Homo sapiens: one gene and its partners. The protein of the gene in region 1 interacts with the protein of each later gene in a pairwise test. Each region holds a gene or a part of one and is shown in the gene's direction. Other genes may lie near its edges. The genes, in order: TOMM6, SLC10A1, C1orf159 and SLC18A2.

Evidence for each region.
Region 2: the proteins of TOMM6 (region 1) and SLC10A1 interact in binary tests that used the Homo sapiens proteins (3 or more experiments, as listed by UniProt).
Region 3: the proteins of TOMM6 (region 1) and C1orf159 interact in binary tests that used the Homo sapiens proteins (3 or more experiments, as listed by UniProt).
Region 4: the proteins of TOMM6 (region 1) and SLC18A2 interact in binary tests that used the Homo sapiens proteins (3 or more experiments, as listed by UniProt).

Annotation. Positions count from the first base shown.
Region 1 is NC_000006.12:41,783,194-41,790,395, forward strand, and holds TOMM6 (mitochondrial import receptor subunit TOM6 homolog), read left to right. Parts: upstream 1-4,500; 5' UTR 4,501-4,504; coding exon 4,505-4,632; intron 4,633-6,038; coding exon 6,039-6,135; 3' UTR 6,136-6,143; intron 6,144-6,337; exon of another isoform or gene 6,338-6,374; 3' UTR 6,375-6,702; downstream 6,703-7,202. Other genes in the region: PRICKLE4 (prickle-like protein 4), read left to right, coding at 281-412, 938-1,045, 1,742-1,879, 2,144-2,347, 2,935-3,139, 3,569-3,936.
Region 2 is NC_000014.9:69,794,238-69,802,192, reverse strand, and holds the start of SLC10A1 (hepatic sodium/bile acid cotransporter), read left to right. Parts: upstream 1-4,951; 5' UTR 4,952-5,037; coding exon 5,038-5,393; intron 5,394-7,955. UniProt on the Homo sapiens protein: As a major transporter of conjugated bile salts from plasma into the hepatocyte, it plays a key role in the enterohepatic circulation of bile salts necessary for the solubilization and absorption of dietary fat and fat-soluble vitamins.
Region 3 is NC_000001.11:1,106,079-1,113,100, reverse strand, and holds part of C1orf159 (uncharacterized protein C1orf159 isoform 2 precursor), read left to right. Parts: intron 1-7,022.
Region 4 is NC_000010.11:117,272,103-117,279,124, forward strand, and holds part of SLC18A2 (synaptic vesicular amine transporter), read left to right. Parts: intron 1-5,059; coding exon 5,060-5,164; 3' UTR 5,165-7,022. UniProt on the Homo sapiens protein: Electrogenic antiporter that exchanges one cationic monoamine with two intravesicular protons across the membrane of secretory and synaptic vesicles.

The DNA of each region.
Region 1 (7,202 bases):
TGGGAGACCCCAGAATTTGAACTTCAGAAATTCTGGACCAAAAGACCTGACCTCAAGTCCTGGCTCTGCCACTTACTAGCTGTTTGACCTTGGGCATGCTACTCAAGGTCTGATCCTCAGTTGGGCCATCTGTAAGATGGGGATAATGCTACCTAAGTCGTTTGGGTGTTGGGAGGACTGAGGGAAATAATATCTATAAAGCACTTAACACTTCCTAGCACATTGTAACGGCCTAATACATGGAGGTGTTCTTATTGTTTTGGGGTAGGCTTTGCCACAAATGTCAGTGCAGAACTCTGGCTGGCCCCACCAAGAAGACAGCCCCAAGCCCCAGGATCCAGGTCCACCAGCCAACTCAGACAGTGACTCAGGCCACCTGCCGGGGGAGGACCCTGAGGATACCCATGCTCAGGTAGTAGAGTCGTGCCCTTCCTCTGAGACCAACATGTCCTCTATCCTGTGGAGTGGCCACCCTTTTCCACCAACCCGGAGGTAGTTTGACTTCGTGCCTAATCTCTTGTTGCCTTTTTCTCTTTTCAGGAATTCCTGTCTCTGCACCTGCTTAGAACATGGGGTTTTGACTTTAAACTCATTCACATGAGTATTCATTATCTCTCCTAGGGGGTCTGTATTGTCAAACCAGACTCTAGGGGCTTTGGCCCCAAGGCGTGAAGGGGGTTAAGAAGGGAAAGCATAAGAAGGGAAGCTGTTTTGGGGTGTGGGGCCTCCCCAGCCTCCCTCAAGGAAGACCACACATGCAGGCATCAGTCAGCTATCCTTGCACTCAGTGAGGATCTGCAAGGAGGACCCTCCCAAATGGAGGGCATGCTTAGAAGCTGCTCTAGATTGGAGAAGAGGTGGCAATGATGAGGGGGAAAGAAGGAGAAAGGAAAGAAAAACCTAGTTTCACTCCTCCCCTTCTTCCATGTCTCCTCAGGGTCCTGCAGTTCTGAGCTTGGGTTCCCTTTGCCTGGACACCAACCAAGCCCCCAACTGGACTGGACTTCAGACCCTCCTGCAGCAACTCCCTCCGCAGGACATTGATGTGGGTCTCCTCTCCCCATCTTCCCTCTCTTGCCTTTCCCTCCCTCATCTCTTTTCTTACTGTGGGAAGAACCTCAGTCCAGAAGTTAGGGGATGTGGATTTAATGCCCAGCTATGGCACTGGTTGGGGCGTCATTCTCCCCCTGCCTGAGTTTTCACATTGGCAATAACAATAGCAGGTGCAATAACATCTGCTCTGCCCACCACAATGCTTAGTTCAAGAGCAAATGAGAAAATGGACATGAACGACTTTTGAAACGGATAATGGAATGTACAAATGTAGAGAGTATGGTTGTTACGTATTTATTGAGGGTCTACATGTGTCCAGCCTAAAGGCTTACAATTCAATTGGGGAGGCAAGACAGGAGTATATGAAATAATTTGAGGAAATGCAAGAATGGGAAGTGATACTGAGCTCTTAGCTCATTGGGAACAAGGACCTAATGGTGACAGGGCTAAGTGCTGTGGGCCTGTCAGGACCTGATTGATGACATTCCTAGTGGGGCAGGGTGAGACTGAGGTGGCTTTCTTGAGCTCCTTTCCTTTTCCATTTCCTCTTCTATGCCATTATCTCTGGCATCTCCCTGAGGTTCTACAACCTTTCTCTGACCCAGCAGCCAAGCCCTTTTTCCTCCAACCAATGCTCAATGTTTTCTGCTGGAGCTCTCCCAGTAATTGTAGAGGACTGTTTCTGCAGGAGCGCTACTGCCTGGCCCTTGGGGAGGAGGAGCGGGCCGAGCTGCAGCTCTTCTGTGCCAGGCGGAAGCAGGAAGCCCTGGGACAGGGGGTAGCCCGCCTGGTACTTCCCAAGCTTGAAGGACACACCTGTGAGAAGGTATGTAGCACCCCTCCCCCCAAATTCCCCTTCCTCTATTCTTTGCCCTCTCATTTCTGCAGAAGGGGCTGGGCTAGCTTCTGGGATTCTGGTTGGGAAACAGGAAAAACAGAAACCAAGTTTGCAAGCTCTTGGTATAGGTTGCAGTGGATGTGGGCTTGCTAGGGTATGGCGAGAACAGGTTGGGATCGGATTGCAAGAGCAAGGAGGGAAGTTAGGATGGTAGTGCTTACTCCGACCACCTCAGCACCTCCCCTCTGACAGTGTAGGGAGCTGCTGAAGCCAGGGGAGTACGGAGTGTTTGCAGCCCGGGCAGGGGAACAGCGCTGCTGGCACCAGCCTTGCTTTGCCTGCCAGGCCTGTGGCCAGGCCCTGATAAACCTCATCTACTTCTACCATGATGGACAACTCTACTGCGGCCGTCATCATGCAGAGTTGCTGCGCCCGCGCTGCCCGGCTTGTGACCAGGTACAGCCTGGAGGGGAGGAACTGGGGGTCTGCCCAGAGTCCAGAGTGGCAGGATACAAAGGGACACTCTCCTGGGCCACAGTTTCTCCCAGTATCAGGGAGTGGGGAGAAGTAGGAACCAGCCTGGGACTACCAAGTTCCCTGTGTTCTGACTTGAGCTCTGGGCATGTAGGACCCAGTGCCCTTCTCTCTGGCCTCCCCCACTGCAGAGTCCCTCAAATGTTCCTGGACTCATCGAATTTCTCTAGAGCAGGGAGTCTTGGACACATGCTCATCTCAGTAGATGCCGAGTGCCCAGTGCTGTGCCTCATCATGCTAGAAATTCCCTTGATGTCAGCATAAAAGGAAGCCTGGAGCCCTGGGTTGGGAGTCCAGACCCCCAGGTCGCACTGGGGATTGTCCCACTTGCTAGCTGGGATCCTGGCTAAGCCAATCAGTCCTCCCTGCGTCCAAAAGTGGCTGAGTGAATTAAATGGGAATGTGTGCAGACGTGCTTTAGCGTTAACTGGGTAAAAGGCGTGGTTACTGGATGAATGAATGAGGGAATGAATGAATGAAACGTTCCCCTCTCCCTCTCCCTCTCCCAGCTGATCTTCTCCTGGCGCTGCACCGAGGCGGAGGGACAGCGCTGGCATGAGAACCACTTCTGTTGCCAGGACTGCGCCGGGCCTCTGGGCGGGGGACGTTATGCCCTGCCTGGGGGAAGCCCCTGCTGCCCCAGCTGCTTCGAGAACCGCTACTCGGATGCAGGCTCGAGCTGGGCCGGGGCACTGGAAGGGCAGGCATTCCTTGGTAAGGGAGAGGATGCAGAGCAAAGCGGGAGGGAGCTTGGGCTGGGCTGTGGGGGTTCTCCCGGGCTGGGACCCTCGCCCCGGTCCCACGCCGTCCCGTCCCTCCAGGAGCGCCCCCACCGCACCCCCCAGACCCAAGCCTCGGGGCCCGCAGCTCTCACCGCGCATCCCTGGCCGGAGCGTTCCAAGGGCCGCCCGAACCCACCCCGCGCCGCGGTCGGGGTTGCGGCGCCAGACTCCCTCCCAGGCGCGGGAGGCGGACGCCCTCTGGTGGAGGCGGGGGACCCTGGCGAGGACTCTCGGCGGCGGCGGCGGCGCGCACGGCCCAGGGGCTGGGCGGGGCGGGAGGCTGGGCCTCACCCCCACTAGCTGCGGTGTAGGTCCAGCTCCGCGGCTCTGAGACCAGCGTTTCCGACCCGGCCCGGAACAGGGGAGACTGGACTCGACCGAACTGAAGGAAGGGACCAAACCTCGGTGAACTCTGCAACCCTCTCCCGAACACTCCTCGCTGCTGCCGGCGGTTCCAGCCTGCAAACTCAGAGGGGGCTGCCTGGATCCAGTCCCCAGCAGGAGAACCGACCTGGGGACAAAGCGGAGGCACCCAAAGGGCAGGAGCAATGCCGCCTGGAGACTATTCGTGATCCCAAGGACACCCCTTTCTCCACCTGCTCCTCCTCCTCTGACTCGGAACCTGAAGGATTTTTCTTAGGCGAGCGCCTTCCCCAGTCCTGGAAGACCCCCGGAAGCCTCCAAGCAGAGGACAGCAACGCCTCTAAGACGCACTGCACCATGTGCTAGTGGCGCAGCTCAGAGAGGGGATGTGAGTGGGAGGAAAGGGGTCTGTAAAGCGGGAGAACAAGGCTAGCCTCCCCCTAACAATCCTAGACTGAGACGCAGTCAGGCGCACGCCCGCAAGAGGCGGCGAGGTGACAAGTTTGGAGTGCGCCCCCTTCAGTACTGCGCGTTCTAAGACTTTTGGCGGAGACTTTCTTGGCAAAACCCATTCCCCAAAGCTACGCTTCCCCTGCTGAGATAGCCCCTACCCCCACCTCCACAGGCTGGGACAGCCCCGTCCCCACCATCCTCCTCCCAAGCCAATTAAATGATCACAGCACGCGTGACAGTTACCGGCTGGAGAGCCGGAGGTGGGACCGGGAGCAGGGGACCGTAGAACCGGGCCGCGCTCCTCCCCTCCTAGAGTTCGTGGAGGCGCAGCAGAGGGCCGTCCCTCTTCCGGATGTCGGACTAAGCGAACAGCGCCCCCACTGCCGGCCGGTAGCAGCCGGAAGTGCCAGACCGGAGGTGCGTCATTCACCGGCGACGCCGATACGGTTCCTCCACCGAGGCCCATGCGAAGCTTTCCACTATGGCTTCCAGCACTGTCCCGGTGAGCGCTGCTGGCTCGGCTAATGAAACTCCCGAAATACCGGACAACGTGGGAGATTGGCTTCGGGGCGTCTACCGCTTTGCCACTGATAGGAATGACTTCCGGAGGTAACCGAGCCCGAGGAACTTGGTCCTTTTCTGGCCCTTAAATCCGTATTTCCCCTTTCTTGCGAGGCTGGCGCCTCAGGGTTTTTTGTTTTTGTTTTTTAACATTACCAGCATTGTGGCGTCTTCGTAGCTCTGGCTGTGCCTCACTGAGATCCCTGGCCAGGAGAGTTCCCGTGTGGCAAAAGCGATCTTTCTGTCATGTGGCTGTATCTGTAATGTCACCCTGATCAAGGGAAGAAGTGCTAGCACGTAAACAGGCTTTTTCGGCCCTGGACTAGTGCTTTAGCTGGGCTTTGCGTTTGATCTTACATTTCTTTTTTGTTTTTTTTTTTTTTTTGAGACGGAGTCTCACTCTGTTGCCCAGGCTGGAGTGCAGTGGCGCGATCTCGGCTCACTGCAAGCTCCGCCTCCCGGGTTCACGCCATTCTCCTGCCTCAGCCTCCCGAGTAGCTGGGACTACGGCCGCCCGCCACCACGCCCTGCTAATTTTTTGTATTTTTAGTAGAGACGGGGTTTCACCGTGTTATCCAGGATGGTCTCGATCTCCTGACCTCGTGATCCGCCCGCCTCGGCCTCCCAAAGTGCTGGGATTACAGGCGTGAGCCACCACGCCCGGCCTTTTTTTTTTTTTTTTTTTTTTTTTTTGAGACGGAGTCTCACTCTGTCGCCCAGGCTGGAGTGCAGAGGCGCAATCTCGGCTCACTGCCCCTTCTGCCTCCCGGGTTCAAGCGATTCTCCTGCCTCAGCCTCCCCAGTAGCTGGGATTACAAGCGCGCGCCACCACGCCCAGCTAATTTTTGTATTTTTAGTAGAGACGGGGTTTCACCATCTTGGGCAGGCTGGTCTCAAACTCCTGACTTCTCGATCCACCCGACTCTGCCTCCCAAAGTGCTGGGATTACAGGCGTGAGCCACCGCGCCCGGCCACATTTATTTCTTTTTGAGACAGCCTCGCTCTGTCGCCCAGGCTGGAGTGTAGTGGCGGACCTCAGCTCACTGCAGCCTCCGCCTCCCGGGTTCAAGCGATTTTCCTGCCTCAGCCTCCCCAGTAGCTGGGATTACAGGCGCGCACCACCACGCCCAGCTAATTTTTGTATTTTTAGTAGAGACGGGGTTTCACCATGTTGGCCAGGCTGGTCTCGAGCTCCTGACTTCGTGATCCGCCTGCCTTGGCCTTCCAAAGTGCTGGGATTACAGGCGTGAACCACCGCGCCCAGCCTGACCTTACACTTACTAGGCACAAAAATGAACTCCAAATTCCCACGTGGGTCTTGAGCAACCTGCCGTCACAACCACGTATCAACGCCTCGGGAAGGTGGTGATGGAAGCCTTTCCCCCCAGTACATTTCGTTAACTGTACAACTGACTCAGTGACCACAGGGTTAATAAAACACATTGTTTTTCCAGGAACTTGATACTAAATTTGGGACTCTTTGCTGCGGGAGTTTGGCTGGCCAGGAACTTGAGTGACATTGACCTCATGGCACCTCAGCCAGGGGTGTAGCCAAGTAGGTAAGCACTGAACTACACCCATGCGTGTCTTAGGAGACCTAGAGACTGGGTGAAGCAATGTTTTCTGTCAAGTATTCATGAAATGTACAAAAGAATGTGATGTAAAACCCTTAACTATTCCTAGTTAAATGTGTTTTCAGATGTTGAAAGGGATTTAAGTATCTCTTACCAGTTTCCCTCCCATACTTTTACAGTTCTAATGCCACCTGTCGTCTTATCATCTGATTGCAGACAAATGGAATCCTGTGCTGAACCCGAATCTTCCAAAAAACAGCCTACAATCTGTGACCACCACAAGATGTGCCCTGATGGCAGCTGAAGTTTGATTCAGATGGGCACTTTTCTTCCCCTTCCCTGCCTAGTTTCCTTTTGTTCCTTGAGTCCACGCAGAATTCCATTCTCTGGTCAGCAGACAGGCTTAAGCTAAAGTATTGCCTCTATTCTGTAAAGTTCTGTACATAGTTCCCAAGCTTCTGCAGGGGGTGATTTTTGCTCTTGTCCTGAGAAATAACAGTGCTGTTTTAAAAAACATTTGAAATAAATACCGCACACAAAGGCAGTCATTTTATTCTTTTAATAAGAAACTTTTGCTTACAAAAACAAGGTGTAAAAAGATTTACAAAAATCATAAAAACATGATTTATATTTCACACTTGAGAGACAAAAACAAGCCCCAAAACATGGATTTTAATGGAGGTGGTTTGCTTCATTTTAAAAGGGAAAAAAAAAAAAGGAAGCTGTAACCATACATTGATGTTAACCTAGCATGAAGTTTATTCTTGAAGAATTTACATTGTTGAGCAATATTAGGGGAAGAAGCCATTTGGTGTTGCATAGCATTTTAGTGCACCAGATGGGTTTTCCAGACACCAGGGAGGCATCATTGCTGGAATAGTGAGGTTTGGTGGCAGAAAGAGGGCAGTGATGTGTAGGGGGAGGCAAAGTGAAGTAAGCCTGGGCAGTGGTCACTAAAGTGACACTGCTGAGGCAGCTGCTTCCTTCAGAAGGAAATGTTTTGTGACCCTAAAATTCATGGTAGTGCTACTGTCCAGGGTTTGG
Region 2 (7,955 bases), on another chromosome or scaffold:
ATCCTCTTGCCTCAGCCTTTTAAGTAGCTGGGGATATAGGTGCCTGCCACCACACCTCGCTAATTTTTTATTCTGTGTAGAGACTAGGTCTTATTATGTTGCCCAGGCTGGTCTGGAACTCCTGGACTCAAGCAATCCTCCTGCCTCAGCCTCCCAAAGTGCTGGGATTACAGGCATGAGCCACCATGTCCAGCCTCTACAGCCACATTTATACCATAAGTCACTACCATATTTTTTAATGGCTACATTCTTTTAAATGGGCCATAACCAATCACCTACTAATAGATATTTAGGTTATTTCCAATAGTTCACTATTACAAAGCAATGCTGCAGTGAAAATCTCTTTACGTAGATCCTCAAGCAATTATCTCTATAGGATAATTTTCTACAAGTAGAATTCTACTGTCAAGAGCAATGGCTGACTGAAGGCTTTTTATGCCACTTCAGAATCTGGGAAAATAGCTGACTTTTGCCAGAGATGAAATTAAAATGTCCCTTAAGTAAAATTTACACAGCCACCACTACCCCCCCATGATTGTTTGGATGTTGTGTTTGTTGTGTTGCTTGCTACATCCAGCCTGTGAAAGAACAAGTCTAGGCCAGTTTGGAAAAAATATGCAATCACAGGATCTTTTCCAGTCAAAGCTTTCAGGTCTCAAAAAGCAGGCTAACTCGGGAGACAGGATGAGGCAAAAGAAGGAGCAGGTCAGAAGAGCAGCTGGGGCCCGGAACCAGGCTGGGCATGAATACCAATTGTACCACTCACTAGCCATGCAAATTGGGCAGATTATTTAACCACTCTAAGCCTTTTCCTAACCTATAAAATAAGGATAGCAATAGCATCTTATCTCATAAGGCTATTGTGAAGACTAAATAAAAACGTGGGCATTTAGTGCTATACATTTCCCTCTTAACACTGCCTTAGCTGTATCCCAGAGATTCTGGTATGCTGTATCTTTGTTCTCATTAGTTTCAAATAACTTATTGATTTCTCCCTTAATTTATTTGCCCAAAAGTCATTCACGAGGAGGCTGTTTAATTTCCATGTAAATGTATGGTTTTGAGCAATTTTCTTTGTACTCAATTCTATTTTTATTGCTTTGTTGTCCAAGGGTGTGATTGGTATAATTTTATTTTTGTTTTTTGCATTGGCTATGAATTGCTTTATGTCCAATTCTTTGGTTGATTTTAGTGAATGTGCCATGTGGCAATGAGAAGAATGTATATTCTGTTGTTTTGGGGTGGAGAGTTCTATAGATGTCTACTAGGTCCATTCAGTCAAGTGTTGAGTTCAGGTCCTGAGTATCTTTGCTTTGATGATTCGTCTTGCCTTGATGATCTGTCTAATACTGTCAGTGGGGTGTTGAAGTCTCCCTCTGTTATTGTGTGGGAGTCTAAGTCTCTTCATGGGTCTCTCAGAACTTGCTTTATGCATTCACCCCCTCTGGAGGATGCAGCAACAAGGCATTATCTGCAGAGAGCAGCCCTCATCAGATACTGAATCTGCCAGCACCTTGATCTTAGACTTTCCAGCCTCCAGAATTATAAAAAATAAATTTCAATTATTTATTTTTTAAAAAGAACTTGCTTTATGAATCTGGGTACTCCTGCGGTTGGTGCATCTATATTTAGGACAGTTAGGCCTTTTTGTTGATTTGAACCCTTCACCATGATGTAATGCCCTTCTTTGTCTTTTTTCATCTTTGTTGGCTTATAGTCTGCTTCGTCTAAAATTAGGATTGCAACCCCTGCTTTTTTCTGATTTCCATTTGCTTGGTAGATTTTTCTCCATCCCTTTATTTTAAGCCTATGGGTGTCATTGCATGTTAAATGGGTCTCTTGAAGACAGCATGCTGTTCGGCCTTGCTTCTTTATCCAGCTTGCCACTCTGTGCCTTTTATTTGGGGCATTTAGCCCATTTACATTCAAGGTAAAGGGAACACTTATACACTGCTGGTGGGAGGGTAAATTAGTTAAACCATTGTGGAAAATAGTGTGGCAATTTTTCAAAGAACTAAAAACAGAACTACCATTCAACTCAGCAATCTCATTACTGGGTATATACCCAAAGGAATATAAGTCATTCTACCATAAAGACACATGCACACGTGTGTTCATTGCAGCACTATTCACAATAGCAAAGACATAGAATCAACCTAAATGCCCATCAACAGTAGGCTGGATAAAGAAAATGTGGTACATATACATCATGGAATCTATACAGCCGTAAAAAAGAATGAGATCATGTTCTCTGCAGGAACACAGATGGAGCTGGAGGCCAATATTCTTAGCAAACTAATGCAGGAACAGAAAACCAAATACTGCATGTTCCCACTGATAAGTGGGAGTTAAATAATGAGAACTAATGGGCACGAAGAAGGGAACAACAGACACTGGGGCCTACTTGAGGGAGGAGGGTGGAAGAAGGGAGAGAATCAGGAAAAATAACTATCAGAACTATCAGGTACTATGTTTAGTACCTGGGTGACAAAGTGGTCCGTGCACCAAACCCCCATAACACAAGTTTGTCTGTAACAACAAACCTGTACATGTACCCCTAAATCTAAAATAAAAGTTAAAAAGAAATGTAATTTAAATCACAGCATCCATCACACAGCATGTGCTCAACAACTCTCAGGTATCATTAACATAACACAAAAAGATCTTCCTGTTTCCAAAATTGTATTAAATTAGAGTAGATTCTGAGGGGATATGGGGAAAAGAATGGAGGGTGTCAGGTTCCTGGAAGAGATTTTTCCATTCTCTGCAAAGTCACATTGCTAGGAACAGAGGGAATGGGAAGGAGTGGGAGGAGGGGCAGCCAGGGCAAGAAACTGTTTTCTCAAAGGGAAAAACTCACAGTAGGAGGTGGAAGGATTTTGGGTTCCTGAGAAGAGGTGAGGAGGAAGAGTTGATAGAGACTACGTGGTTTAGAATCCAGGTTACAAATGTGTTCATAGGAACTCTTCTTCTCTTTGGATGTGCACAATAGACACATGCCCAGACCCTGATCTTTAACAGATATTGGTCAATTCCTCCTCACCCTTTGGCATCAGGCAAATGTGTAAAAACCTAACGTCTCCCTTTGACTTCAAGGCCTCATGTACGGTTGCACAAGACATCTGTAGAGTGGCGTCCCTAGCATTGTGTAGTGCCCAACCTGAACAGGTGTACCTGGCAGCCCTGCATGGCCTCCACCCTCACGTGCTTCCATATTGCATTGTGTACCATCTGGCCATCTGTGGTCTTGTACAGACCATCAGGTCCCTGAGAACAGGAACATGAATTATATAGTTTTTTTTATTTATTTATTTTTATTTTTTTTGCCTCCCATGGTGCCTGGTACTCAGTTAGTGATCAATAATTCTCCCCTAGCAACTCTGTTCCCTTCTGATTAGCCCCAGGGAGAGGAAGCAGCCTCCTCTGAGACTCAACCCTACCCTGTGGGAACGCTCAGTCCAGGCATCACATCCAGTGCCCAGTCCTCTGCCTGCCCTCCCTTTGATACCAGCCCAACTCAAGCACCAGGAAATCATTAGCAGAGACTCTCAAAGGAAAAGAGGCTTCAAGTTCATGTCACCCAGGGCCACAGTATACGGCCCCGCAGGCTGCCCACCGCGCAAGCCCAGGGAGCAGCCTTTTCATGGATATGATGCAATATGTATGGATCCTGCCATCCAACCCTTATCCAAGCAGGATTCCAGAGGCCTCAAGGCCATTCTTGGAGAGCTCTCATTTTCAGGTGGTTCCTTGCACCAAGCCAAAATCTGTCCCCACCTCCACCCAACAGTGGTTCACACCCTGGTCCCTATTCTGCCCTCTGGAGTCCTACATACAAAGCCTAATCACCTGTTTCAGACCCCACCCAGGCCTCCTAGGTTCCAACCAAGCCAAGAAGCAATTGTGTTTCTGAAGGAGACCCCTCCTCCCTTGTCCCACCTCTGCAGTGGGGATAGATGGAAAGAGCAAGGCCTAGGATAACCTCACACACTAGGTGGCCCCGCCCCTGGCATGCCCACCTCTCTCTGCTTCTGCTCCACGCCCCAAGCCTGGCTCCCAGCCTGAAACACACAGGCCCAGTGCAAAAGTAAAGCAATCAGGAAGTCAGGAAGAAAAGACTGCATTCCTGCTTCCTTCTCAGCAAGTTTTGCAAGCAATGGGCCTCCTCGGGCACAAAGCAATCTCCACAGCCAGGGTTCTCTCAGGTTGCTTTTCGGGGAAAGAGCCTCCAAGCTTCCTGAGAGCCCACCCACCATCCCAGCTGGTTATTCCCTCTGATGGTAAGCATTCCAGGTAGTGTGGAGCAGCCACCACCAGTATTCCTCCCTGGGACTCATACAGTCCCAGTTTGGGGATAAAACAAACATTTCCCCAGAACAGGCAGGGAGGATACTGGCATCCTCTCAGCTCCCAGGAAAAGGGTCATGGACACATCCCCTCCTGGAGGCCAGTGACATTGCCTGTCCCACACCCCCTTGGACTATGCTACCTGTATCTAGGAACCAAAGGCAACACCCAGCTCCTTTCACTCTCATGGGTTCTGGGGACAAATGATAACCCACTGGACATGGGGAGGGCACCTTCCCCCAACCAAGAAACTAAGGAATCAAGAGCGGAGCTGGGAAAAGGAGCTGCAGGGAAGGAGATGGGCTGGACCTAGATTCAGGTGGGCCCTGGGCAGGTCCCCAGTAACTGAATGAATGCCCATGAGGCACACTCAGTGGAGGGCAAAGGGGAGAAATAAGCCCAGAAGCAGCAAAGTGACAAGGGAGGAGTACAAGTAGCACCCAGGAATCCAGCAGAGGTCAGGGAGCTTGGGAGAGCTAGGGCAGGCAGATAAGGTTCTGGGCTGTTCCTCTTTGGGGCGACAGCCAGAGAAATAGCTCAGATAGTTGCATAACCCTTCTATTTGCCCAGAGCTTTTGTCCAGAAACTCTCTGTCCTGAGAGGTGATTAAAGAAGGCATCCAGCAAGAACTGCACAAGAAACGGAGTCAGCCGGAGAACAAGGAGTGGTCTTCCACTGCCTCACAGGAGGATGGAGGCCCACAACGCGTCTGCCCCATTCAACTTCACCCTGCCACCCAACTTTGGCAAGCGCCCCACAGACCTGGCACTGAGCGTCATCCTGGTGTTCATGTTGTTCTTCATCATGCTCTCGCTGGGCTGCACCATGGAGTTCAGCAAGATCAAGGCTCACTTATGGAAGCCTAAAGGGCTGGCCATCGCCCTGGTGGCACAGTATGGCATCATGCCCCTCACGGCCTTTGTGCTGGGCAAGGTCTTCCGGCTGAAGAACATTGAGGCACTGGCCATCTTGGTCTGTGGCTGCTCACCTGGAGGGAACCTGTCCAATGTCTTCAGTCTGGCCATGAAGGGGGACATGAACCTCAGGTAGGCCTGGGGGTGAGGAGGGAACAGCCTGGGACAGGAGCTACATTAGATATGTCACAATTGAGGGGAAGAGCTGGGCTAAAGCCAGGAAAAGGAGTGAATGCAGGCTGGGTGGAGGCTAGGGCAGGGGAAGTCTGGCATTTATTGCCAAGAGCTTATGCTGGGATGGGGGCAGGAGTTGGGGTACGTCTGGTTTAGGCACCAAGCCAAAGGGACCATACTGGTCCAGGAAGCTCGTGGTGATCTCCTTGCTTCCAGAGGTGTCTCAAGGATTGTCTTAAAGGAGCACTGATTAAAGCCAAAGGAACCTCTGGAGAACTGCATCCACCTACAACAGTGGACAAGTTGCCTGCTTTGAGCCCAGAGATTTAAAAGGTAGTGTGATTCGTTCCAAACATCATCAGGGAGATCAAGGTGACTTGGAACCAAATGAGCACCTCAAATTCCTGCAAAGCGGGCAAGAATTTCCAAAAGGTCCTCCCAATTACCTGGTCATCTAAGATGTTTTCTCTTTAAAGTCCCTCATTCCCCATCAGATGCAATGACATTTCCATGCAAAGGCACAACCAGGGAGATCCTAGAGTTTCCCAGCACCCACTCCAGATAGGCCAGCCCCATCTCAGCCACCCTGATAAGGGGAAGACAGCAGCACCCCCTAACCCCCTGCCCAAAGCATTATAAGCAGAAATCAGCAAGGGCTCGCTCCTGGAGACGCAGCACACAGGGGCTGGTTGATGCTCATCCTTCCAAACTGGGGAGACTCTAGTCTTGAACATCTGCCAGAGGAGCTACTTCAGACCTGCTCCAGCTCCAGCAGCCTGTGCTGAAGCTAAAGAAAACTCACTAGCAGAAGCTCTTGCTTTCAGTGAAACCTCAGTCTCAAGCCAGTCCCCCCTGGTTTAGTCCTCCGTGGAGACGCTATTCAATGCCAGGTATAGCAGCAGAACCCAGAAAGTCCATCTGCTTGTGTCTGTCAGCACCCTACTCCTAGCCAAACTTTCCTAGGAAAACTAACCCAGTCAAGAAGCCCCTCCTAGTGATGCAAAATGACACTGGGACAGATTTTTTAAATGAAAAAAGTGAGAATGGCTGGGCACGGTGGCTCACACCTATAATCCCAGCACTTTGGGAGGCCAAGGCAGGAAGATCACTTGAGACCAGGAGTTTAAGACCAACCTGGGCAACATAGCAAAACCCTGTGTCTACAAATATATACATATATATTTAATTAGCCAGGCATAGTGGCACATGCCTGTAGTCCCAGCTACTTGGGAGGCTGAGATGAGAGGATCTTTGAGCCTACGAGTTCAAGGCTACAGTGAGTCATGATCACACCACTGCACTCCAGCCTGGGCAACAGAGTGAGACCCTGTCTCTCTCTCAAAAAAAAAAAAAAAAAGGAAATAAAAAAGTGAGAGTGAATGAGAGTTGGGGTTTAACAGGATCTGCCATCTGAGAAGCTCTGGGCTCTTTTTCCATATGATTCAGCCCTCACTTTAGTAGTCAATGGGAAGAGAGGCACAAAGAGGGCATTTGGCTTGTGCCATCACCCACGGAAAGGTATTTCAATGTTCAACTACCTCACTGTGAGAAAATGCTTTCCTCTGTCTAATCCACATCCTCTCTGCTACAAAGCAAGCCCTTGGTCTTGGATCTGGCTTCTGGACAAGGCTCATGGCAGCCTGTGTGTCCCAAGAATCCTAGAGTATATCTGAATTTTGGTGTATGAGGGATGCAGAAGTCAGGGGCCTGCGAAGGGGTACTCTGAGGGCTTTGTGTTTCTGTGGAAGAAGCAGAGCAGGGGACGTGGAAGGCAACTGTGCTTTTAAGTGTGAGTGGCCAGATGTCCCAGCCCCATCGCCAGTGGCCACTATTGAGGCCTCTGCCACAATGCCTACATTGCTGTGGCTCTAGGCCCCACCCAGGCAGAGCCTCTGGTGACTCAAGAACATGACCCCTCATGCTCTCCTGCTCAACCTCCTTGTCCAGACCCCTGATGACTGTCATTTTTACCTAGACCCCCACAAGAGATAAGCTCTGCTGGGACAGCCACCTTCTGCCATAAAACTCCTTCCCAACAAACAACCCTCCCATGCACATTAAACCATGTCTCAGATCCCACTGTCGGAATGGGAATCTGGTCATCTACCTTCATGTGCTGCCAGACTTCAAATCCCATTCCAATTTGGGACAACTTGTTACATGCATTATAATAATGACAACGATTATAAGAAACAGCCAGGCACAGTGCTAAACACCTTACCTGGATAAGTATATGTGATCCTCCTACAGCACCCTGGGGGACAGCATGTAACAAGTAGCATTTAGAGGTAAGGAAACTGAATCTTAGAGAGGTCAATACATTGGCTCCAGGTCTGGGTGGCTCCGGAACCTGTGCTTTTACTGAAATATCTTCCAGGTCAGCATTTCCACAAACAAAATGGCCAGACAGCCTCAAAGGCATGGGCAGACACCCGTGTCTCAGCAGCAAGTATTGTGTGGGAGCCAGAGCTTCCCACTTTTCAAAAGAAGGTAAAATATCCATTTTATGTGAAATCAGCA
Region 3 (7,022 bases), on another chromosome or scaffold:
CCTCAGCCTCCCGAGTAGCTGGGACTACAGGTGCCTGCCACCACAACCGGCTAATTTTTTGTATTTTAGTAGAGAAGGGGTTTCTGCATTTTGGTCAGGCTGGTCTCGAACTCCCAACCTCAGATGATCCACCCACCTCAGCCTCCCAAAGTGCTGGGATCACAGGCGTGAGCCACCGCACCCCACCGACTAAGGCAAGTTTTAGAGCAGGAGTGAAAGTTGTTGAAGAAGCTTTAGAGCAGGAAGGAAAGGAAGTACCCTTGGAGGAGGGCCAGACGGGCGATGTGAGAGATCAGGTGTGCGGTTTCACCTTTTGACTTGGGGTTTTATAGCCTGGCAGGCTTCTGGGGTCTTGCACCCCTTCTCCCCTGATCCTTCTTCAGGGTGGGCTGTCCACCCATGCAGCATCTTGCTAGTACTTGGGCGGGAGCATGCGCCATGTGTTCCCTGGAGGGAGGGAGCATGCCCGGTGTGTTCACTGGAGGGAGGGAGCATGCCCCGTGTATTCACTGGGGGGAGGGAGCATGCGCTGTGTGTTCACTGGAGGGAGGGAGCGTGCGCGTTGTGTTCACTGGAGGGAGGGAGCATGTGCCGTGTGTTCACTGGAGGGAGGTAGCATGTGCCGTGTGTTCACTGGAAGGAGGGAGCATGCGCTGTGTGTTCACTGGAGGGAGGGAGCGTGTGCGTTGTGTTCACTGGAGGGAGGGACCGTGCGCCGTGTGTTCACTGGAGTAGTGCCCATGCTCACCTGAGGCGTTCTTCCGTTACCTGTCAAACGTCCCTAGAAGGTCATAGAACGGTTACACGCCGCCATTTTGCCTCTCAGTGCACACGCTTGAGCCAACTCGCCCAGTTCCTGAGATCGTATCGGGAAGCTGCCCATCACCGGATTTCATGTGTTTTCTAGCTATTGGGAGCCTGTCTTTCCCTGGCGCTGGGTGCAACCAGTTCTTTTAGACAGTTAACAGCCACCTGACCATCACCTGATGGTGGCCTGACATTCCCGGTGGGGGGATGGGCCCGATCCTGCCCTGCTCACGTCTGCTGAGCCACCTACGGCAACCGCCCGACTCCGGTGTGCTGAGCCCACGGGTAGGTGGGCAGCGACTACCATGCATGTCAACAAAGGGGGATGTCTCCTTTACACCCCATCAAGGGGTTTGCGGTATTTGTTTTCTATCAAAGCACGAGAGGGATCTTTAGGTAGAGAGGCCCCAGACAGTTCTTATTGGGCCCTTAAAGCTACGTTTCACGTTGGCTTCCTTTGCTTGCTACGAAGATGACCAGCATTAGCTACACGGATGCAGTGGAAGCTCCAGCCAGCCCTCGGGGCTGTGTTTACCGAGGTTCAGCAGCGTGAGAAACCCGCCAGTGGACCCTCCCGCCTCCCCTTTTCAGTTACTGCTGCCTGGGCGGCTGGAGTTACGGTGAGCGTGGGTGTGGTCTACCCACTGCCCCAGCCGGTGGTTGCTTTTACAGGGTTGTTTTGCAAGATGTTACTTATTTAAAATCACAGTGACCTGAGGCATCATTTTTTTCTTGAAACCAGTTCTTTGTTGTTGTTGTTGAGACGGGGTCTGGCTCTGTCGCCCAGGTAGAGTGCAGTGGTGCGATCATGGCTCACTGTAGCCTTGACCTCCCAGGCTCAAGAGATTCTTTCACTTCAGCCTCCCAAATAGCTGGGACCACAAGTATACGTCACCAAGCCCAGCTATTTTTTTTTTTTTTTTTTTTTGGTAGAGATGAGATCTCACTCTGTTGTCCGGGCTGGTTTTGAACTCCTGGGCTCAAGCGATCCTCCCACCTTGGCCTCCCAAAATGATGGGATTGCAGGCCTGAGCCTCCACACCTGCCCTGAAACCAGTTCTTCTAAGGGAAAATAAGAGTGGTCAAAGAGTGTATAGCACAATTTAAATTCTCACTAAATTTTTCATTGCCTTGTAGAAATTTTCATCCCATTATTTAGCTTTTTGGCTCCAATGAGATTTTCAAAATAGAAAATGCATGTGTTTAGTTACTAAGGCATAATTTACATGCAGTGAAACACACAGAGCTTGTGTCCAGTTCAATTGTTTTGACAAAGGATTCACCAGACTCCTGTCGTGATGTAGAATCTGCCTGTGATCCATGGAGATTGCCTCGCAGGCTGCTCCAGCGCCCGCCTGCCGCGCCAGACAGGAGCGCTGCTGTGATTTTACCGACACTCTGAGTGTTAGGAGTCACACGTGCGGGCGGTTTTGCGTCTGCCACGGCTCACGCAGAGAACTGTTGTTGAGCTTCCTCTGAGGTGCTGCACAAGGAGTGGGTGTGGGATGCGCTGTTGCGTGCTCGTCGTCTCTGAGGGCGCCCGGGTGGGTTTCCGCTGTCTGAAGAGTTGGGCCTATTTTTGTGCACGTGTTTGGCGGGCGTGTGTTGTTTCTCTTGGGAACGTGCCCGGGGGGAAGGCTGCATCCCAGGTGTGGAAGTCCCAGCGGTTCTGTGTGTCCCCACAGCCGAGAGGCTGAGTGCCGTTTGGTCGTGGAGGCTTTAGTTTGCATTTCCCTGACGCTCACCCGTGTTGAGCACTGTCCACTCATCTGTTGCCATTCGCACACGTTTTCTGAGTGTCCGAGGATGTCTTTTGCCCATTTTTTTGATGACCAGATTGTGAAAGTCCTTTATATATTCCATATTCAGGGCTTTTGTCTGGTACGTGTACTGTGACTATCTCCCATTCTTTGATTTGCCTATTAATTTTATTACTGATGTTGTAAACTAAGAATAAAATCCTAAGTCCCCCGCCGACTGAACGAGCTCCCTCTTGGTCAAGGGGACCCCAGAGAAACCTTAAAAATTGAGTTTCCGGCCATAAAAGGATGGGAGGTTGGACACACCTGGTTATACTGCCACCCTTTTTCAGTTTAGACACAACTGACCAACATTAGTGTTAAAGTGGAGATCACGAGACTGACAGACTCTGCGGCAATAAGACGCCGAGTTATAATCAGGACCTAAGGCCGTGCCAGGCCGGGGTTAAGTCACACACCCTTACAGTTAAAGAATAAGGCTTGGGTTTTCTTTTCCTCTAGCAGTTAAGCAGGCACTGGCCTGAGACAAGCGGTATGGAAACAGTGATGGCTCGCTGCCAGGCACTAACTGACCCCCCATTTCACGGCCATAACTACAGCGTCACTTTCCATAACTTCCTCCTGATAAGACACCACTGGCCACGGACTGGTTCTGCTGGTCTATGGAGGATGTGACTGGAGTGACTCCCGGGCCGCGCCTCACCTTTGGCCATATAGGGCCTAATTGTCTTACATGTAAATGTGAAATCTCACCTCTCAGTGAACATGGGTCCTGCGTTACATGCATGTTTATCTAGTACACATGCATTAAGACAGGAGAGAGGAGCGCTTGAGCCCAGGAGTTCAAGACCAGCCTGCGAAACACAGCAAGACACCCTTTTTACCAAAAAATAAAAATAAAATTAGCCAGATATGGTGGCAGGCATGTAGTCCTAGCTACTTGGGAGGCTGAGGCGGGAGAGTTGCTTGAGCCCAGGAGTTCAAGATGGCGGTGAGCTATGATTGCACCACTGCACTCCAGCCTGGGCAACAGAGCAAACCCATCTCTAAAAGAAAGAAAGAAATTTTAAAAAGGAGGAAAGGAAAGAAAGGAGAAAAGAGGAAAGGAAAAAGGAAAGGAAACTGTTCCCATTAAACACTAACTCCCCATTCCTCCCTGCCCCCCAGCCCCTGGCAACCACCGTTGTCTTTTCTGTCTCTATGAATTCGACAACCCTGGGAACCTCATGAGTAGAATCATACAGTATTTGTCCTGTTGTGATGAGCTGCTTTCACTTAGCATAGTGTTTTCAAGGTTCATTCCTGTTGTAGCATGCGTCCAAAATTTCTTTTCAGGACTGTAGAATATTCCACGGTCTGTATAGACCACCTTTTGTTTATCCATTCATCTGTGGGTGGACACTTGCTCCCACCTTTTGGCTGTGGTGAACAATGCTGCTGCAGACATGGTGGCTGTGGTGAACGGTGCCGAGACATGGTGGCTGTGGTGAACGGTGCTGCCGAGACATGGTGGCTGTGGTGGACGGTGCTGCTGAGACATGGTGGCCGTGGTGGATGGTGCTGAGACATGGTGGCTGTGGTGAACGGTGCTGCCGAGACATGGTGGCTGTGGTGGACGGTGCTGCCGAGACATGGTGGCTGTGGTGGACGGTGCTGCTGAGACATGGTGGCCGTGGTGGATGGTGCCGAGACATGGTGGCTGTGGTGAACAATGCTGCTGCAGACATGGTGGCTGTGGTGAACGGTGCCGAGACATGGTGGCTGTGGTGAACGGTGCTGCCGAGACATGGTGGCTGTGGTGGACGGTGCTGCTGAGACATGGTGGCCGTGGTGGATGGTGCTGAGACATGGTGGCTGTGGTGAACGGTGCTGCCGAGACATGGTGGCTGTGGTGGACGGTGCTGCTGAGACATGGTGGCTGTGGTGAACGGTGCCGAGACATGGTGGCTGTGGTGGACGGTGCCGAGACATGGTGGCTGTGGTGAATGGTGCCGAGACATGGTGGCTGTGGTGGACGGTGCTGCCGAGACATGGTGGCTGTGGTGGACGGTGCTGCTGAGACATGGTGGCTGTGGTGAACGGTGTCGAGACATGGTGGCTGTGGTGGACGGTGCTGCTGAGACATGGTGGCTGTGGTGAACGGTGCCGAGACATGGTGGCTGTGGTGAACAGTGCCAAGACATGGTGGCTGTGGTGGACGGTGCTGCTGAGACATGGTGGCTGTGGTGAACGGTGCCGAGACATGGTGGCTGTGGTGGACGGTGCTGCTGAGACATGGTGGCTGTGGTGAACGGTGCTGCTGAGACATGGTGGCTGTGGTGAACGGTGCTGCTGAGACATGGTGGCTGTGGTGAACGGTGCTGAGACATGGTGGCTGTGGTGGACGGTGCTGCTGAGACATGGTGGCTGTGGTGAACAGTGCTGAGACATGGGGCTGTGGTGAATGGTGCTGCCGAGACATGGTGGCTGTGGTGAATGGTGCTGCTAATGTGTCTAGAATTGGTGGATTCTTGGTCTCACTGACTTCAAGAATGAAGCCGCAGACCCTCGCAGTGAGTGTTACAGTTCTTAAAGATGGTGTGTCCGGAGTTTGTTCCTTCTGATGTTCAGATGTGTTTGGAGTTTCTTCCTTCTGGTGGGTTCGTGGTCTCACTGGCTTCAGGAGTGAAGCTGCAGACCTTTGCAGTGAGTGTTACAGCTCATAAAGGCAGTGCAGACCCAAAGAGTGAGCAGCAGCAAGATTTATTGCAAAGAGCGAAAGAACAAAGCTTCCATAGTGTGGAAGGGGACCCGAGTGGGTTGCTGCTGCTGGCTCCGGCAGCCTGCTTTTATTCCCTTATCTGACCCCACCCACATCCTGTTGATTGGCCCATTTTACAGACAGCTGATTGGTCCATTTTATAGAGAGCTGATTGGTCTGTTTTGACAGGGTGCTGATTAGTGCGTTTACGATCCCTGAGCTAGACACAGAATGATATTTACAGTCCTCTAGCTAGACGTAAAAGTTCTCCAAGTCCCCACTAGATTAACTAGACACAGAGCAGCGATTGGTGCATTTACAAACCTTGAGCTAGACACAAGGTGCTGATTGGTGCGTTTACAAACCTTGAGCTAGACACAGAGTGCTGATTGGTGTATTTACAATCCTGTAGCTAGACATAAAGGTTCTCCAAGTCCCCACCGGATTAGCTAGATACAGAGAGTGCTGATTGGTGCATCCACAAACCCTGAGCTAGACACGGAGTGCTGATTGGTGCATTTACAATCCTCCAGCTAGACATAAAAGTTCTCCAAGTCCTCACCCGACTCAGGAGCCCAGCTGGCTTTGCCTAATGGACCCAGCGCCTGGCCGCAGGCAGAGCTGCCCACCAGTCCAGTGCCGTGCGCTACACTCCTCAGCCCTTGGGTGGTTGATGGGATCGGGTGCCGCGGAGCAGGGGGTGGTGCCCGTTGGGGAGGCTCGGGCTGTGTGGGAGCCCACGGGCGGGGGTGCGGGGGGCCTCGGGCATGGCAGGCTGCCGAGCCCTGCCCCGCGTGGAGGCAGCTGAGGCCCGGCAAGAATTCGAACCTGGTGCAGGGGGGCTGGCAGTGCTGGGGGACCCTCCACAGCTGCTGGCCCAGGTGCTAAACCCCTCACTGCCCAGGGCCGGGGGTGCCGGCAGGTGCTCTGAGTGCGGGGCCCGCCGAGCCTGCACCCACCCAGAACTCACGCTGCATGCAGCCCCGGTTCCCGCCTGCAGCTCTCCCTCCACACCTCCCTGCAAGCAGAGGGAGCCGGCTCCGGCCTCGGCCAGCCCAGAGAGGGGCTCCCACAGTGCAGCGGTGGGCTGGAGGGCTCCTCAAGTGTGGCCAGCGTGGATGCTGAGGCCCAGGAGGTGCTGAGAGTGAGTGAGGGCTGCTAGCATGTTGTCACCTTTCACTAAGACATGGTGGTTGTGGTGAACAATGCTGCTAAGATATGGTTGTACAAATGTCTCTTGGAGTCCTGGTTTTCAGTTCTTCAGGGTGTAGAACCACAAGTAAAGTTGCGGGGTCATAGAGTAATTCTGTGTTTAATTTTGTGTGTGTGTTTAGTTTTTTGAGAAACTGACATACTGTTTTTCACACCATTTTATATTCTCAGCAGCATGCACAAGGGTTCCATTCTCTCCACATGCGTTTGCCAACATTTATTTCTGTTTTTTTGGTAATAGCCATTCTAATGGGTGTGGAGTATTTCATTTTGATTTTGATTTGCATTTCCCTAATAGTGACATTAATCGATAGTTTTTAATTGAAGTATTTAATTTAACCATTTGTATTTAATGTAGGTGTTAGAGTGTTTGGGTTGGAGTCTACCATCTTTATGTTCGATTTCTGTTTTTCCACCTGCTTTTCCCTGCTCCTCCTTTGCTTCCTTTTTTGTAGGTAGAGGGATCAAGTTGTCTTCAATTTTATCTCCTCTGCTGACTTTTT
Region 4 (7,022 bases), on another chromosome or scaffold:
GAAATGATAACGTCTACCTCATAGGATTGTTGTGAGGATTAAATGAAAGAATCCCAACAGAGTGACTGGCCCTGTGGCTCAAAAAGTGTGTTCCTATTTCCAATATCACCCCACTCTTTCCTGCTTATCTAACTCTCTGGCTTCCCCCGTCAGTCCAGCAATACCTGAATTTTCTCCCTTTTTCCTCCTCTGTGATGTGAGAGTTTCCTTTTGCTATACAGACCCCAGAACTCCTGAATGGGCTCCCCTTGCCAAGCCGGCAAACATCAGTGGCTGTTGTGATGTCCGTTTGTGAACGGCAGCCTGATGGCTTATCTGTGGCCTTGGGGAAATGAATGAGGTCAGAGGATGAGCAGAGAATGTGCTTGCCCAGCCAACTACCACTGTGTTCCGCAGAAGGACTGGCAGAAGGCAGGCCTCAGTACCCCTCCTCTTTCCCCATTTAAACGAATACTTCAGTTCATGTTTTAAAAAAATGCTGAAGGAAGTGGAAGAGACGATCCTGAAAGGCCAAACAGTAAGAATTATAGGTTTCCAGGAAGCCACTTTCACTGCAAGATGTTACAATCCTTAATAAGCACCTAGCAAGATAAATCATTAAAAACTTGAGAAGGTGTGCATCTCGCTGCCCATCAATGATGCCCATAATTGAAGGCATCACATTGGATGCCATTTGACTGGCCTAATGGTGACATTTGAGAGTGGTGGCCAGCAGTTGCTGCCTACTCATTGTGCAAGCAGAGCAGGAAGCCAGCGGTGGCGGCCGACAGCACCTAATGATAAGGGGGCATGCAGGCAGGACAGCAGTGTGTGAGGGAGGAGGAAGAATCAATGACCATGCAGTTGAGAAACCCCAGAGCAGACAAGTGCTGGCGTTCAGGATGAGCAGTTGCCAAATGCTGGGGGATGTGAGGGCCAGAAGGCATACGACCCTTAGCAAATCATTCTTCCATTAGACAGCATCCTGATAACAAGGTGTTTGGACTTAAGCTGTTTTATATTGTAAGATATAATGCTGTTTTCATGGATCACAAGTGACAGAATCATGAACTAGTTTATAAGCATGTGAGTTTGTCTTCCATTTGGTTTACTGGATTTCTGTTTTTTATAATCAGCATTATCAGTATAGGTGGAGGAAAAAAACTGTTACTCAAGTCCCTCTGCACATACAGGAAATATCAACATTACCATTTGAGGAAAAGTGTCTTATAAGACAGTTACACGGTAGCGCTTCACTCTCAAAATTCCCAGTTGAGAAGAGCTGTGTTGCGGATTTTTTTTTCCAGGTTGAAGAATTATTTTTAAAGACAAGTCACGCTTCTTAATTTTACTCTTGAAGTTTCTAATTGTTGCCAAGACAAGAAATTAGGTGGTTTGAGGATTGCAGCTTTCTTTTCCTGGATGGCTCTGATAGTTGTTCCATAAAGCCCTTCCAGCAATAGCTCTGTTTTCTGGATGCCATGCGTGGGGCAAGGATGGGGTGGCCCGAGGCTGCTGAGATAGACCACATTCTGCATATTCTAAGTTGTTTATAGAATTTGTCCCTTTGCAGGTATTTAAATAGTGGGTGCAAAACCATCATTGCTTTTCTAGTTATGTTAAAGAGAATAAAACTTTCCTACTCAGAAGGCCCAGGACCTATCATCAAAATCTCAAAGACTGGCACTCTTATCTTTTAATGCTTTTATGGGTTCACTACCCCAGCTTTGTATTACTTATACTTTTCATTTGGTCCACCATGTTGGTTTGTTTGTACCACTTAGGAGATCCTAACTCATGAAAGGGGCATTTGGAGGGGCTGGGGCTCACCTCTCAGTAAGAGGGCTTTGCTCTGAATTCAAATGCCAATCCTCTCCTATTGATTTTCTCTTTGGTTGAGAGTCAAACACACCTTCCTCACCACAGCAGTGTGTGGAGAGCAGATTTAATTTACCTGCCTGCACTGCGGCCGCCCTACTTGTTCCCCGGGCACCTGACTGACCTGCTTGATGCTGTTCATGCCTTTCTTCATGGCACTTTTGAAACATTACATGCCACCTGGCTTATTTGTGTATAACTTTTTTTTAAAAAGTACAATTATTGCACAATAGATCTTTCAAGAGAGGTTTGGAAGCCAGTGAGCTAGGTTTTAAAGGCTACAGAACATTTAAAGGAGGAAAACTTCACCTGAAACAGGCTGCTAATAAATATGTTTTTGGTGAATTGACAAATGCTGGTCAGTTAAGTATGCATGATGCCAAATAGTCTGACTGAACTGCTTTTCCTGCAGTGCAGTTTTTTGTTGCGTTCCTATCATGTGCCCAGTCCTAGGTTCTGGGGTCCTTAAGATGACATATTCCTACATTCAGGTCTAATGTGGATGAGCCAAGAGATGGAAGGCAATTAGGAATAAGGTAGTGATGACCGTTCTTTATAAGGTGACCTGCCTGCCTGGGAGCCGTGCAAGGATCGAGGCCCCATGCCCTGCATTCCAGTTGGGTGTCCCAACTGGTATCTCACTGTGCCTCCTCAGCAGACCTCTGTGGTGGCCAGGCTGGCTTACTTAGTGTCCTGCTTGGTAAATAACTCATGTTTTACTCATTGCCACCTCCCTTGCTGTCCAAACCTTTTCCATCTTTCAAAGTTTACCTCAACTCCCGCCTCTATAGGATAGCGTTCCCTGGGCACTGAACCAGCAGTGAGCACTCCACCTGGGACCCTGGAGTCCCTGTCCTTGCCTGTGCAGGGAGGTAACTAAGATGCTGGGATAGGACCTTAAAGGCACTGAGATGCAACACCTAGTAGGTGTCCCGTCAGCTGTTGTCAGCCAGATGACAGTGCTGTAGTCTTAGATAATGCCATGTAACTAGGGCAGTGTTTCTCAAAGTTGACACTGTTGTCACATGAGGACAGGGCCCTCAAATTTCATTTTTTAACCTGCTCCATCTCTCCACCCCTACATTTCCTTGCGAATCATTAATCTGGGGGAGATGAGACATTTATTGTTAGGGGGGTTAAACCTTTGTGTTACATGGGGAGAACGGTCCTGGTGTACAAAGTCTAGTGCCGCCATTATTTTAAAAATTGAGCTCTTTATTGAATACAAGTATCAATTCACTTGGCAAGCAGCATAAAAAACAGTTAAGTTAGAAGCTGACAGGTTGAGCTGGCAGCCTAACTTAGAGGGTCAAGGAAGTCCTTATCTTCACATGTTACACAGATCACTGGATAATGTCTTGGGAAATGATAAATGGGTTAAGCACTGAGTCGAGTCTTATCTGGGGACAAGAGCTGGGAGTAATAGCTAACAGACAAGATGGGTTACAATAGGCCAACATCAGATACATTTTAATCTATTTAGATTTGCAAACTGCAAAAAAAATATTGGGGAGTAGTTCACATGGAGAAAAACTCAAGACATACCTGATAATTCATTTTAGTTGCACATGACGCCCCCTTGCCATCCTCTGTGCTCATCTAACTACCACGGAGTGCTGCAGGCGGCTCCTGTCTGCCCCATCCTAGCTGTACACCCCTCGGTCAAATTCTTTAACTGCTCCGTGCCTGTTTTCTCACCTCCCACAGAGGGTTATTGTGATGTATTGCCACTAAAATGCTTAGCATGGTCTTGGCATGATAAATGCCAGCTATCAAATATAAGCAAATACTATTGGACAATCTGGTTTGAAAGCAGAGCAGCACGTTTTTGTCACAGTTTTTAAATTTTCAGTAACAATAAAGGAGGGCATGAGAGTTTCATGCTCATCAGAAGAGGATTTTTAAAAAATCATATATTTTAGCTAGAGGACAGCCAGGATTGGGGACAGGCGGTCAGGAAATCACATGTGTGAAAAAATAATAGCTCTAGCATGTTTTGCCTACTAAGAAATCTAAGGGGCCATGACAATATGGTCTTAAAAGATTGGGGGCCAAGCATGGTCACTTGCACCTGTAATCCTACCACTTTGGGAGGTTGAGGCAGGAAGATCACTTGAGCCCAGGAGTTTGAGCAACCTGGGCAATGTAGTGAGATGTCATCTCTACAAAAAAAAAAAAATTAAAAATTAGCCAGTCTTGATGGCATATGCATGTAGTCACAGCTACTCGGGAGTCTGAGGTGGGAAGATGGCTTGAGCCTGGGAAGCAGCAGTGAGCTGAGATCGCACCACTGCACTATGGCATGAGTGACATTCTGTCTCAAAACAACAACAAAAGATTGTAAGGGCAGCCTGTGAAGATATCAGAACTGGCTGGGTGCAGTGGCTCGTGTCTATAGTCACAGCACTTTGGGAGGCTGAGGAGGGGGGATCACTTGAAGTCAGGAGTTTGAGACCAGCCTGGCCAACATGGTGAAACCCCATCTCTACTAGAAATACAAAAAAAGTAGCTGCGAGTGGTGGTGCACACCTGTAATATCAGCTACTTGGGAGGCTGAGGTGGGAGGGTTGCTTGAACCCAGGAGGTAGAGGTTGCAGTGAGTCAAGATCACAACACCGCACTCCAACCTGGGTGACGAAGCAAGACTTCATCTCAAAAAAAAAAAAAAAAAAAAGAAAGAAAGAAAGAAAGAAAAAGATACCAGAACCAGATTCATGAATGCAAACAATGGAAACGGGTTGTAGTCCAGACTTAGGTACATTTCTCACATGTGAGGGCTTCTCTCATTAAGGAGAGAGCACATCCTTTCAAGGTGTGTTGCTACAATGACGTCTGTAAACAGAAGTTGGACTGGGTGACCTCCAGGATCCCCATACCCCAATTCCAAGATTCTAAGTATAACAAACCTAACCTGCCTGTCCCTTGCTTCATAGAGTATAAGTTCCCAGAGTGGACTTATGGCCCCTGACAGGTATAATGAAAATACTGCAGAGACCACTTCTGTCTCCAATTGCCTGGAATTTTTAGAGTGTAGAACTACAGGTCTTTTAGGTCAGGCGTCTGGCGATTGCTCCAAATGACTGGTTAATAGCAAGTAATACTACATAGTTTTCAAACTAATAATCCTTAAAAACAGTAGGTTAAAACCATCTTATCTTTATGAAACAAGAAGTTAATATACTTGCACTTTGCTCTCTTTTAGGCTATTCTCATGGATCACAACTGCCCTATTAAAACAAAAATGTACACTCAGAATAATATCCAGTCATATCCGATAGGTGAAGATGAAGAATCTGAAAGTGACTGAGATGAGATCCTCAAAAATCATCAAAGTGTTTAATTGTATAAAACAGTGTTTCCAGTGACACAACTCATCCAGAACTGTCTTAGTCATACCATCCATCCCTGGTGAAAGAGTAAAACCAAAGGTTATTATTTCCTTTCCATGGTTATGGTCGATTGCCAACAGCCTTATAAAGAAAAAGAAGCTTTTCTAGGGGTTTGTATAAATAGTGTTGAAACTTTATTTTATGTATTTAATTTTATTAAATATCATACAATATATTTTGATGAAATAGGTATTGTGTAAATCTATAAATATTTGAATCCAAACCAAATATAATTTTTTAACTTACATTAACAAACATTTGGGCAAAAATCATATTGGTAATGAGTGTTTAAAATTAAAGCACACATTATCTCTGAGACTCTTCCAACAAAGAGAAACTAGAATGAAGTCTGAAAAACAGAATCAAGTAAGACAGCATGTTATATAGTGACACTGAATGTTATTTAACTTGTAGTTACTATCAATATATTTATGCGTTAAACAGCTAGTTCTCTCAAGTGTAGAGGACAAGAACTTGTGTCAGTTATCTTTTGAATCCATAAATCTTAGCTGGCATTAGTTTTCTATGTAATCACCTACCTAGAGAGAGTTGTAAATTATATGTTAACATGTTATCTGGTTGGCAGCAAACACTAAAGCCAATAAAGGAAAAACAGTAAATGTTCCGAAAGCAGAGAAAAGCAACCAAACATATTGTTATGAACTAAAAGCTTTCCCTTTAAGATGCATACTTGTCTTACTGGATGAAGAAAATTGAGGGTACATGTACCTTATACTGTCAAGGTTGTTTAAACATGATAAGGTTAATCGCCATCTACTTCAAGTTTTAGAAAAGGAAACAAGAAGCTGAAAACAGCTGCTCTGACTTTAATATCTGACTATATCTTTGATCTGTTTGCAGGTCATCCAAGTGTTTTCTAGGAATATATTTATTTTAGGTTGTCTGAAACTACTATTTTTTAGACTCCTGAAAGTTGTTCACATCAATGTGAAGACAAATTTTAAATGAAAATGAAGAATGAAATTATGTCTTGAATCATATATTAAGAAGTAAAAATAATAGTGATCAGGCAGAAAAGAAAAATGGAACATCTAAAAATGTATGTGCTAACTATATCATCCAGTGTGCAGTGTTGTGTATTTTTCTAAGCATGACAACATTGATGTGCCTTTTCAGTGTAACAGCAAATACTGTTAGTGAACATTGTCAATTTATGTCATTTTGTTAAGAGATATGACTGGAGTGTGCAGTGTGGAATGTCTCTAATACTACTTGTGAATCCTGCAGTTCTATAATCATAAACAAAAATTACTTAGTTTCGTTAAGCTAAGATTGTGTTTGTGTTAACTTCGACATCAAGGAGCAAAGAACTTTAGAACAGACTCCTCAATCTTGTGACTTTCTTATTCTCTAGGAAAGTAACACTTCGTTTCATGAAGCTTTTCTGTGGGGCTTCGATTATTTCAAGTCTGGTTTCTAAGTGCAGTGTGTTTGAAGCAAACGAACTTCCAACTCACTTATTTGGCATTGGGCAACTTGGCCAAGTCTGCCACTTTGGAAGATGGCTCTGGAGGAAACTCTCATATGGCTAAAAAGGCAGGCTAGTTTCTTACTTCTACAGGGGTAGAGCCTTAAAAAAGAACGTGCTACAAATTGGTTCTCTTTGAGGGTTTCTGGTTCTCCCTGCCCCCAATACCATATACTTTATTGCAATTTTATTTTTGCCTTTACGGCTCTGTGTCTTTCTGCAAGAAGGCCTGGCAAAGGTATGCCTGCTGTTGGTCCCTCGGGATAAGATAAAATATAAATAAAACC